Regions from separate parts of the Homo sapiens genome. Here region 2 is reported to be linked to region 1. Evidence: microRNA targets listed by miRTarBase, many of them from high-throughput screens and not tested one by one. Region 1 holds a microRNA gene; the other region holds the end of a gene's coding sequence.
The links. Region 1 holds the annotated microRNA hsa-miR-708-3p (CAACUAGACUGUGAGCUUCUAG, at 1,456-1,477, shown strand). A microRNA usually pairs through its seed, bases 2 to 8, with sites in the 3' UTR of a target mRNA and lowers its output. Matches are read on the target gene's strand: a 7mer-m8 pairs with bases 2 to 8, a 7mer-A1 pairs with bases 2 to 7 and ends in A, and an 8mer does both.

Region 2: the mRNA of SMC5 is a reported target of hsa-miR-708-3p. Seed matches in the 3' UTR shown: 7mer-m8 at 2,059-2,065.

What each region holds. Positions count from the first base shown.
Region 1 is chr11:79,399,107-79,403,508 of GRCh38, reverse strand. It overlaps MIR708 (microRNA 708), which reads left to right and starts at 1,400; the gene lies at 1,400-1,487. The region is part of intron 1 of TENM4 (teneurin transmembrane protein 4); the gene reads left to right.
Region 2 is chr9:70,351,284-70,355,685 of GRCh38, forward strand. It overlaps SMC5 (structural maintenance of chromosomes 5), which reads left to right. Exons shown (of 25, transcript NM_015110.4): 25 at 908-3,590. The coding sequence ends at 1,048. Among named protein-coding and RNA genes, the nearest start is that of KLF9-DT, 61 kb to the right of the region's middle.

The sequences.
Region 1 (4,402 bases):
GACTAGTGAGTTGCCCCTTTTGGTCCCTTCCTTAGAGTAAGCCTCAGTTTCTTCATCTGCAAAATGGAACTATCAGTGCCTTCTCTGACTACCTCGCAGAGTTGCTGTGAAGAAAAAGTGAGATAAAAATGTACCTGAAAGCATTTGTAAAATGTAAAGTGCTGTATAAATGTAACTGATTATTGTTTCATTTAAAAGACATGGTTTTGTTGATATCTCATGAAAAACAGTGCTAGTCCTCCCATTTAGTCATGGCGACAACCTTTTTGTCATAAATGTGCATGGGAGAATCGTTGGTTAGTAGGTGTTTTCCTTTATCCAAGTGGTCTGAGCTGGAAAATATGGAGAATTCCTTCACTAAAGGGCCATATCTTTTGACTCTATTGACAGCATGTCATGTGGAACTCAAAACTGCCTTCGTGAATGCAGATAGATTGCATCTATTAGCTGCCTCTTGTCATCATGACCTGCCAGAAGGGAAAATAAAATGTGCCTACAAATATTTCAATATTTATGTTGTGTGAAGGTTTAATATTCATTTGGAGCAGTGAATGGGGAAAGAGAAAAAAAAGTCCACATCCTTTACTTTGGAAATTGCTCAGTTCAACAAGAATTTATTGAGTACCTACTATGAGCTAGTGAGTGAATGATATGCTAGTGTCTACCAAAGAAAGACACCAAATTCTAATATTGACAACTTCATGTTTGCATACTTTGTCAGAAGCCTTGGAGAATCCCAAGGTCAGGAGTCTTTGCTCATTCCTATGGGGGAACTGATGAAATCTGCCCAGAGGTTGGGGAAGAGGGAAGTAGGTGAAATGGCTGCAGAGGAGAGGTGTTTGTAGTAAAATTGGGGAAGAGAGGAGAGTGGGAGGGGGTGGATCAGACCTCAGAAACACACTCCTACCTGTTAGGATGTAGGTGTGTGCTTGCACTTGTGGGTGGGACCAAGAGACAGGTGTCAGTAGCCTGGAGTTATAAAAACCAAAATGCATTGAATAATTGGATGGGAAACCACACATAAGAAAAGGACTCTTAGCAAGTGTATTTTTTCCAGCAATGCAAAAGTGAATTTACAAGCATATTGTTGTAGCTGTGAAGGGGCAAGCTCTACTAAAGGGATAGATGGTACATGAAAATAAGTTGTAAAATGTTGTTAATTGAAGAATATGTTGATAATTTGTGTCACTGATATTCAGTGTTTTGAATATGTTGTCATTGTCATTTCTCATTATGTAAAAATATAATAATTTTACAAGTTCACTGGTGACTTCATTCCCCTAACCCTATTTTTTCCCCAATAAGGTCCTAAATTCCTGAAGCCTGACTTCTCCTGCCCCAGGGGTTTTCAGAAACCTAACCCCCATGGTTGGCGAGGGACTGCTGTGTGTGAAATGGTAACTGCCCTCAAGGAGCTTACAATCTAGCTGGGGGTAAATGACTTGCACATGAACACAACTAGACTGTGAGCTTCTAGAGGGCAGGGACCTTACCCTAGTCATCTCTCTTCTCACCCTGCACACCCTCCCTGAGGGATCTCATCCATCCCCATGGCGTCAACCACCACCTGAGGACCCTCTAGGCCTGAATTGTCTCCTGAGTGCCACACCCAGCTCTCCAGCATCTTCAGTGTTCCTCCCCGGGTGGAATGCTCCACAGCACTGCCAACTCAACCTGCTCACCAAAACCCAGCTTGTCATATCTCCTCTGGGCCAGCCCTGGCTTCCAGGCTCCTGGACTTGGTCCCCCAGATCAAAGATCCAGGGGTCACTCATTTGGACTGAGCTTGATGGAAAAGTGCTTATGTTTCAATGTTAAGTAAACTGGGGAGCCTATCAAATGTATAGACATGATGAACTCATTGATGTTAAGTACATAGATGGAAAGAGAAATGCTTCAGAATGTATTAGTGGTTGCCTCTAATGGTAAAATAATGATTGACGTTTTCTTTTTCTGACACCCTTGTGCTTTCCAAATCTCCTGCAAAAAGTATTTATTACTTTTGTAACCAGCAAAAATGCCTAATAAAAATGATTGACAGGTCTCCATTTGAGTGTCACCTTTTCTGGGAATTATTGTTTATTCCTTTGCATCTCAAAGAGTCTGAGGCTCCGGGGTTAGACAGCCTCAGCACGTGTGCTTACCCTGTTGGGGAACTTGTTGCACTGTGTTCTTTCTGTAAATCGGCTCTTCCATTAGTCTGTGAGCTCCGAGAGGGCAGGAATCATGGTTATTCATCTCTCATTTCCAGTGCCTAGCACAAGGCTTGCATACATAACTGCTCAATACATGCTTGTTCTTTAAAGGAAGAGAGGGAGGGAAGGAGGCAGGAAAACAAAAAGGTGAAGGACACCAGAATTCTCAAATGTTATACCTCCATGGATCCCTTGTATTATTTCCTGTCCCCAAGATCCTTTGTTTATTAAGCTTTTGAATCTACTGTACCACTGATTTTTCACTCGGTAGTTTGAATTTTTCTGTTTTTTAGTAATCATAGGCCTTATAAATCCCAATCAGAGCTTCTCAGGGCCAAGTCTGGCATATGCCACCTGCTGTCCCAAGTCTGACTTGGGCAGAGTGCCCCCTGCCTGACACCTAGGTCATGGCATGCAGGGCTATCTCCAGTTCTCTGGAGCTGAGTGTACCTTCTGGAGCTTCTTTTAAAGTGGAACGATGGCAAACTGCAATGTCTGTGGGAGGAGGAGAGCAAGGGAACAGATAACATAAGAATAGAAGTGACAATTGCAAACTTCAATTGTGTGTTTCCTCTGTGCAGGCACTGTGCTATGCATCAACACGCACTGTCCCCTCAGCCCTCACAGCAGCTCTGTGACACAGGCACTATTACAATTGCCATTTTGTAAGCAAGGAAACTGAGGCTTAAAGATGCATTAGATGGGGAAACTGGAATTTGCACTGATTGCAGAGCTTAAGTCCAGCACTGCATCCCTCTTCTGAAGTTCCAGGAAGAGCACAGGGAGGAGAGGGCAAGAGAGATGCCTGTCAGGAGAAAGGAGCAGTGTTTGCAATTTCAGAGCCTTGTTTGGGGATGTGCCAGCATAGAGGAGTTTAGCCCCGAAGGCACAAAGCCCTTCACAAAGTCTGTGACACTCCTGAAGTTGTAGGCAATTTGTTCCAGGTATGTGCATTGTCTGGGAAGGTCTTCAAAGGAGTCTGTGTGGTTAAAAAAAAAAAAAATGGTTAAGGAAGCGGACCATGGAGCAGAAAGTTGCAGTGACTGGATTCTGGCTCCAGGCTGCAAATTTAACCATTGAATATCACCCAACAGGATGGATATGGGGATATGGTCTTGTTGATAAAGCATCTCCCTCACACAAGACTTGGAGAAATAATCCTGGAGGGTGTGTGTGTGTGTGTGTGTGTGTGTGTGTGTGTGTGTGTGTGTGTGGTGTGTGTTTATGTGTCTCCCAGGTATTTAGAATCAACTGATTACCAAATCAATCAACAAATATTTATTCTAGCAGAGACTTGATAGCTCTCTGGTTTGTCAGGGTTGTTTAAAGAAGGATTTCTGCCTTGGGTGGGAGTTTGGGCTAAAGAGATAATAATAATTACCATTTATTGAGTGTTGGTTGTGTGCCAGCCAACTCTGCTGGGCACTTTATATACATGATTCCACTTAATCCGCACAACAACACCGACAAGGAAGGTTTTATAACCCATTCTTTACAGAGAAGGAACTCAGAGGGTTTGAATATCTTGCCTAAGGTCATAGTAATTCAATCTGTGTAAGTAGAGGAGCCAAATTTGACTCTACGTCTGTTTCCAAGATTCCACATGTTTCTGTTTCTCTCTTTTTTTTTGATGTGAATGTATGTGTTTCCACCAGAACTAAGATCCATCAAGTTATCAAATTAATAAACAAATGTATTCAAGCAAGACTCGATGCCTGTTAATTAGCCAGGCTGTATTATAAGGGAGCCTTGCTTTGAGTAGCATCTTGGACAAGATCGCCTCCAAGTTCCTCTCTAATTTTAGGGTCTCCTCTCAAATTCCAAACAATCAGTTTTAAATTTTTCTGATAAAAACTTATTGCTCTCCCACTCCCCAGTTCTTCTTCCTTGGCTATGGTAGCAGGGACCACAATCTTTCTCTGCCTTCCTAACAGATTAGTCCTTGTCCATAAGCATTTCAAATAAGAAGAAAATACCCATGTAAATATGGGAAACAACTACTCATTTCAGCTGATTCTCCTTCCCCAGAGAAGAATATGGAACCAGTAGATTTCTGCTCATTGAAAGAGTTGGAACTCATATTCTGTGCCTGGTGGACTGGCTTGCCTTCAGGAAATTGCTCGCTAATCAGAGTGAGAAATGGCACAAAAAATGCTGGGAATCATTTGGGTGGGTGAGATCTGGGGCTGTCTTTATGTTTCTGCCTA
Region 2 (4,402 bases), not on the chromosome of region 1:
GTGGAGGTTTCAGTGAGCCCAGATCACACCACTGCACTGCAGCCTGGGTGACAGAATGAGACCTTGTTCCAAAAAAAAAAAAAAAATTGTTTTTGCCCATCCTACATTCAAATTTTTATTAAATAGTGTCATCTGTCTTCTTTTTTTCAGTAGATAGTCTTGTGGAATAGTCACATCTGTTAATACCCTACTGCTTGCCAAATACCTTAGTCTACAAATGTCCCTGTTACACACTTTTCAGGATACCAGGCTATCAAAGAAGTTGCTTGAGAAGTGTTTATAAATAAAAAGTGAAAGTATCTACCCTAGGAAAATTGTGGAGGACATACTCTTTTCCAAGGTCTGCCAAGGAAGTTGAATAATCCCAGTTATCCTGTGAATCTAGAGGGCTGGATTATTCCTTATTTTGATTGTTCCTTAGGCCAGGCTACAGGTATGCTAATTTAGGTAAGGATTACAGTCTGGCAAGGTTTATATTGAGGTGTTTAAGAGCTTCTTAAGAGTCTTATTGGCTGGGGACAGTGGCTCACACCTGTAATCTCAGCACTTTGGGAAGCCAAGGCGGGCAGATCACCTGAGGTCAGGAGTTCGAGACCAGCCTGGCCAACATGGTGAAACCCTGTCTGTACTAAAAATACAAAAAGTTAGCTGGGCCTGATGGTGCATGCCTGTAATCCCAGCTACTCTGGAGGCTGGCTGAGGCACGAGAATCTCTTGAATCTGGGTGGTGGAGGTTGCACTGAGCTGAGATCGCACCTCTGTACTCCGGCCTGAGCAGCAGAGTGGGAAAAAAAAAGTTTTATTAATATTGCAAATAAAATAATACATTTGACTGTACACATGTAAGGTTGGAAAACTATACTTCTCAGTATATAGCTTATATGACAATTTGTTTTAATACTTACAGCTCCTGCAAAATCTTCCTTATTCTGAAAAGATGACAGTTTTGTTTGTCTACAATGGCCCTCATATGCTGGAACCAAACACATGGAATTTAAAGGCTTTCCAAAGGCGGCGGCGCCGTATTACATTCACTCAACCTTCTTAATAAAAGTAAAGAGAGGGAACTTGGGAATTTTTTTTGTTAAATTCTGTTTATAAGTATGGCTCAACTGAATAAAAGGAGATTCACTAAAACGAAAAGCAGTTATTTTTGGAAACCTGCTTTTAAATACAAATAGGTTGATAATGGAAACTATAATGACCTTTCCAAAATAGCAGCTGGTAGTAAAAGTTAAGTCTTCTTCAGTCTTGGTTGAACTTGAGTTCTTGGCACTCTGACCATGAGTCATTCAGTTCTCATGTTAAAATGTACTTAATATTACAAATCAAAGGTACAGTGGAAGAAGGGTTAATCACAAGAAGTTACTTATATGGTAGCCCTGAGCTTTAATTGCAGAGTAACTTTAATTACTTTTAGAGCCTAAAGATGACTCTAGAGCCTAAGTCCTAGTTTCTCCCAATGTTATATTTAATTTTAAAAAATTGATATGAAAATGTCTAATGTATAGTAATAATTTATGACAGATCTAGTCATTTCTTCCTATTAAAAAAGATTACCTTATCTCCAGTAGGAAATGGAATTTTATGGGCCTTTAAAAGAAAGTTTTATGAAACTTGATGCTATAATTTTATTGGTATTTCAAGGGGAAAAAAGCACTGGGGTTCAAAAATGGTAGCAGAACTGCTTTGAAATGCTGCAAGGTGGCCACTAGATGATGCAAAATACAACCAAAAGATTGACTGAGAATAAAATTAGGTGACAAGGGTTTTTAAAGAATAACCTTTTAAAGTGTGGGGGCAGGGGTTGCTTTTTTTTATTTTATTTAAAGTCAATTATATTTTACATCTTACATTTCTAAAAGCATTTTATAATTATTTTTAGTAAGATTTTTCTTAAAATTTCATATACTGGTTTCTACAATTTATATTTGAAATTTCTCAGTGTTATGTAAAGAGTGATGGAAAAGCATTGATTTCTTTAAAACCGTAATGTTTTTAGAACTTAAGCCTATAGGGCCTTTCTTACAATGTTGATGTACCCATTATCTTAGAAAATCTAGTTTAAACTGTTTTCTTTCACCGCAAAAGAATTAAATGGGAAAATCATTTGTTTATCTCTAAGTTATACTAATTAGTAGAACCAAACAAATTATCTTCTTTTAAAAAATAAATCTTATAGGAAAATAGACAGTCCAAAGTCATGTCTTTGAACAGTGGATTGGATCTGTGCCAGTAATGACAAAATTATTTTTTTGACTTGCTTGCCTGAATAAATTGAAGAATTGCTTTCAGTTTGGGTTTTGTATATTCTTAAGTAGCCATTGAAATTTATATTCTTAACTAGGTCAAAAAATAATGAGCCATAAGTTTATGTCCTCTCACTTAGACATTTTCTCTTTAAAAAGGTATTTTCTTCTTTATAAACATTTTAAAAGAGCCTTCCCTTCTTAAACTAACTCCAGTGCATGAAGTGTGAAAATATTTTAAAATGACATTTTTACTAATATGAGCAAGTCATGTAAACATTGAAGAACTTGGTAACATATTAGTAAATGGATATTACCAAATGTTTTCATCGTTAATTACTTTGCGTTCCACCAAAATATCTTTACTAAAATGTGCTTGGTGTAGTTTGTTTATTGTCTAAATTAGTACCAGTCATCTTATTTCTGCAAAATGAGTATCAATGTGAAAAAGACACGTGAAGATTAAGCATGTTTGAAAATAAAATGGTCAATTACATTTCAATTTACATAGGCCAACAACTGTTCCATACTTTGTTTGTAAACATTTAATTTCTCTACTGGACAAAATTAATATTTGGCTTTACATTGAATTTTGAGCTGTGAAGAATAAATTATGTATCATTTTAGCATATTAAACAGTAGTAAGTCTAGCACATAGTCTCAGCCACTTAAAACAAAAGTTTTTTTGTTTGTTTGTTTGTTTGTTTTTTTGAGATGGAGTCTCACTCTGTTGCCCAGGCTGGAGTGCAGTGGCGTGATCTCGGCTTACTGCAACCTCCGCCTCCCGGGTTCAAGCGATTCTCCTGCCTCAGCCTCCCAAGTAACTGGGACAACAGGCGCGTCCCACCACACCCAGCTAATTTTTTATACTTTTAGTAGAGATGGGGTTTCAGCATATTGGCCAGGCTGGTCTCGAACTCCTGACCTTGTGATCCACCCGCCTCGGCCTCCCAAAGTGCTGGGATTATAGGCGTGAGCCCCTGCACCCGGCCAAAAGTTGATTTTTAATTACATAAAAATCGTAAAAACTTCTAGTAAAAACTTGATTTGGTGAATACAGTTATATTTAAAAACCTTAAGGTGACAAGCATTTTCTATGCCTAAATCTTCATTGGTTTGCCTGGAAAGAGTCTCTGTTAAAAGATTTTCCATATTCAAAGTAAAAGGAAAGATTTCTTGCTTTCTAATTGTCTTTTGGACACATGCCTATTTTCTTTGAGGTATAAACCTTTAGATGTGAAAAATGTAATTTCATTCTGCTATTGTGTGTGCTTGTGTGTGTGTAATTGAAAAAACTGGGAAATCCTGCTTTGTTGGTAATAAATCAATATTTTTATATTCTTTTGGTGTATGTTATTTTAAGTGAGAACTATTTTTTATACTCTGAACCTTATTAAGAGTCATTTTGGTTTTCAGATTTACTAAAAAAAGGTCTGTTAAGTACCCACATTTACAAAATAGTGTTCAGCAGTCTATTAGTGTTCGAAAGGGTAGAAAATTTAGTCCCTTTTCTGCCTGCAGTGAAATCACAGTCTAATAGAAGCAATAAACACTCATGAAAAAAAGGTTTAAACCATTTAAAGAAGCCAAGTTACAAGGCCGAGTATTCATCAGAGAGGCTGCAACATAGGTTAACTGTTTTTATGTTTAAACACTATGTTTGCTAACATGCCCAATAGCCAATTTTCACTTATTACTCCTTACATTAAGCTACTATATAAAGTAATTTTTTTAAAATATATTTTTGAGTCAGGCAGACTTTCACTTACAAGTTACTTGATAGTCTCATCATTGGTGAAATGAGAATCATACCTAATTCACAGAGTTGTTGAGAGGAGCAAATGAGATCGGGGCCTATTGGGACACATAGCATTATAGTGAGTACATTATTAATGTTTATGTATCTTCTCATATTTTAAATCTTGAAAAATGTACTGTGAATTTTATACACCCAGGTCTGAAAATTCTAAATAATGTGAAAGTAGAGATTATTTTGTAGTCTATTGATAAATAGTTCAAAGGATGCCAATACCTACAGACTGAGCATTGGGGAGTGCTGATAGTTATTTTTATAGATCTTGTTACCTTGTTAAATTCAAATATAAGTTAGTCAGATGAGCTTCTTTAAAGATATTCCATCTCATTATTTTATA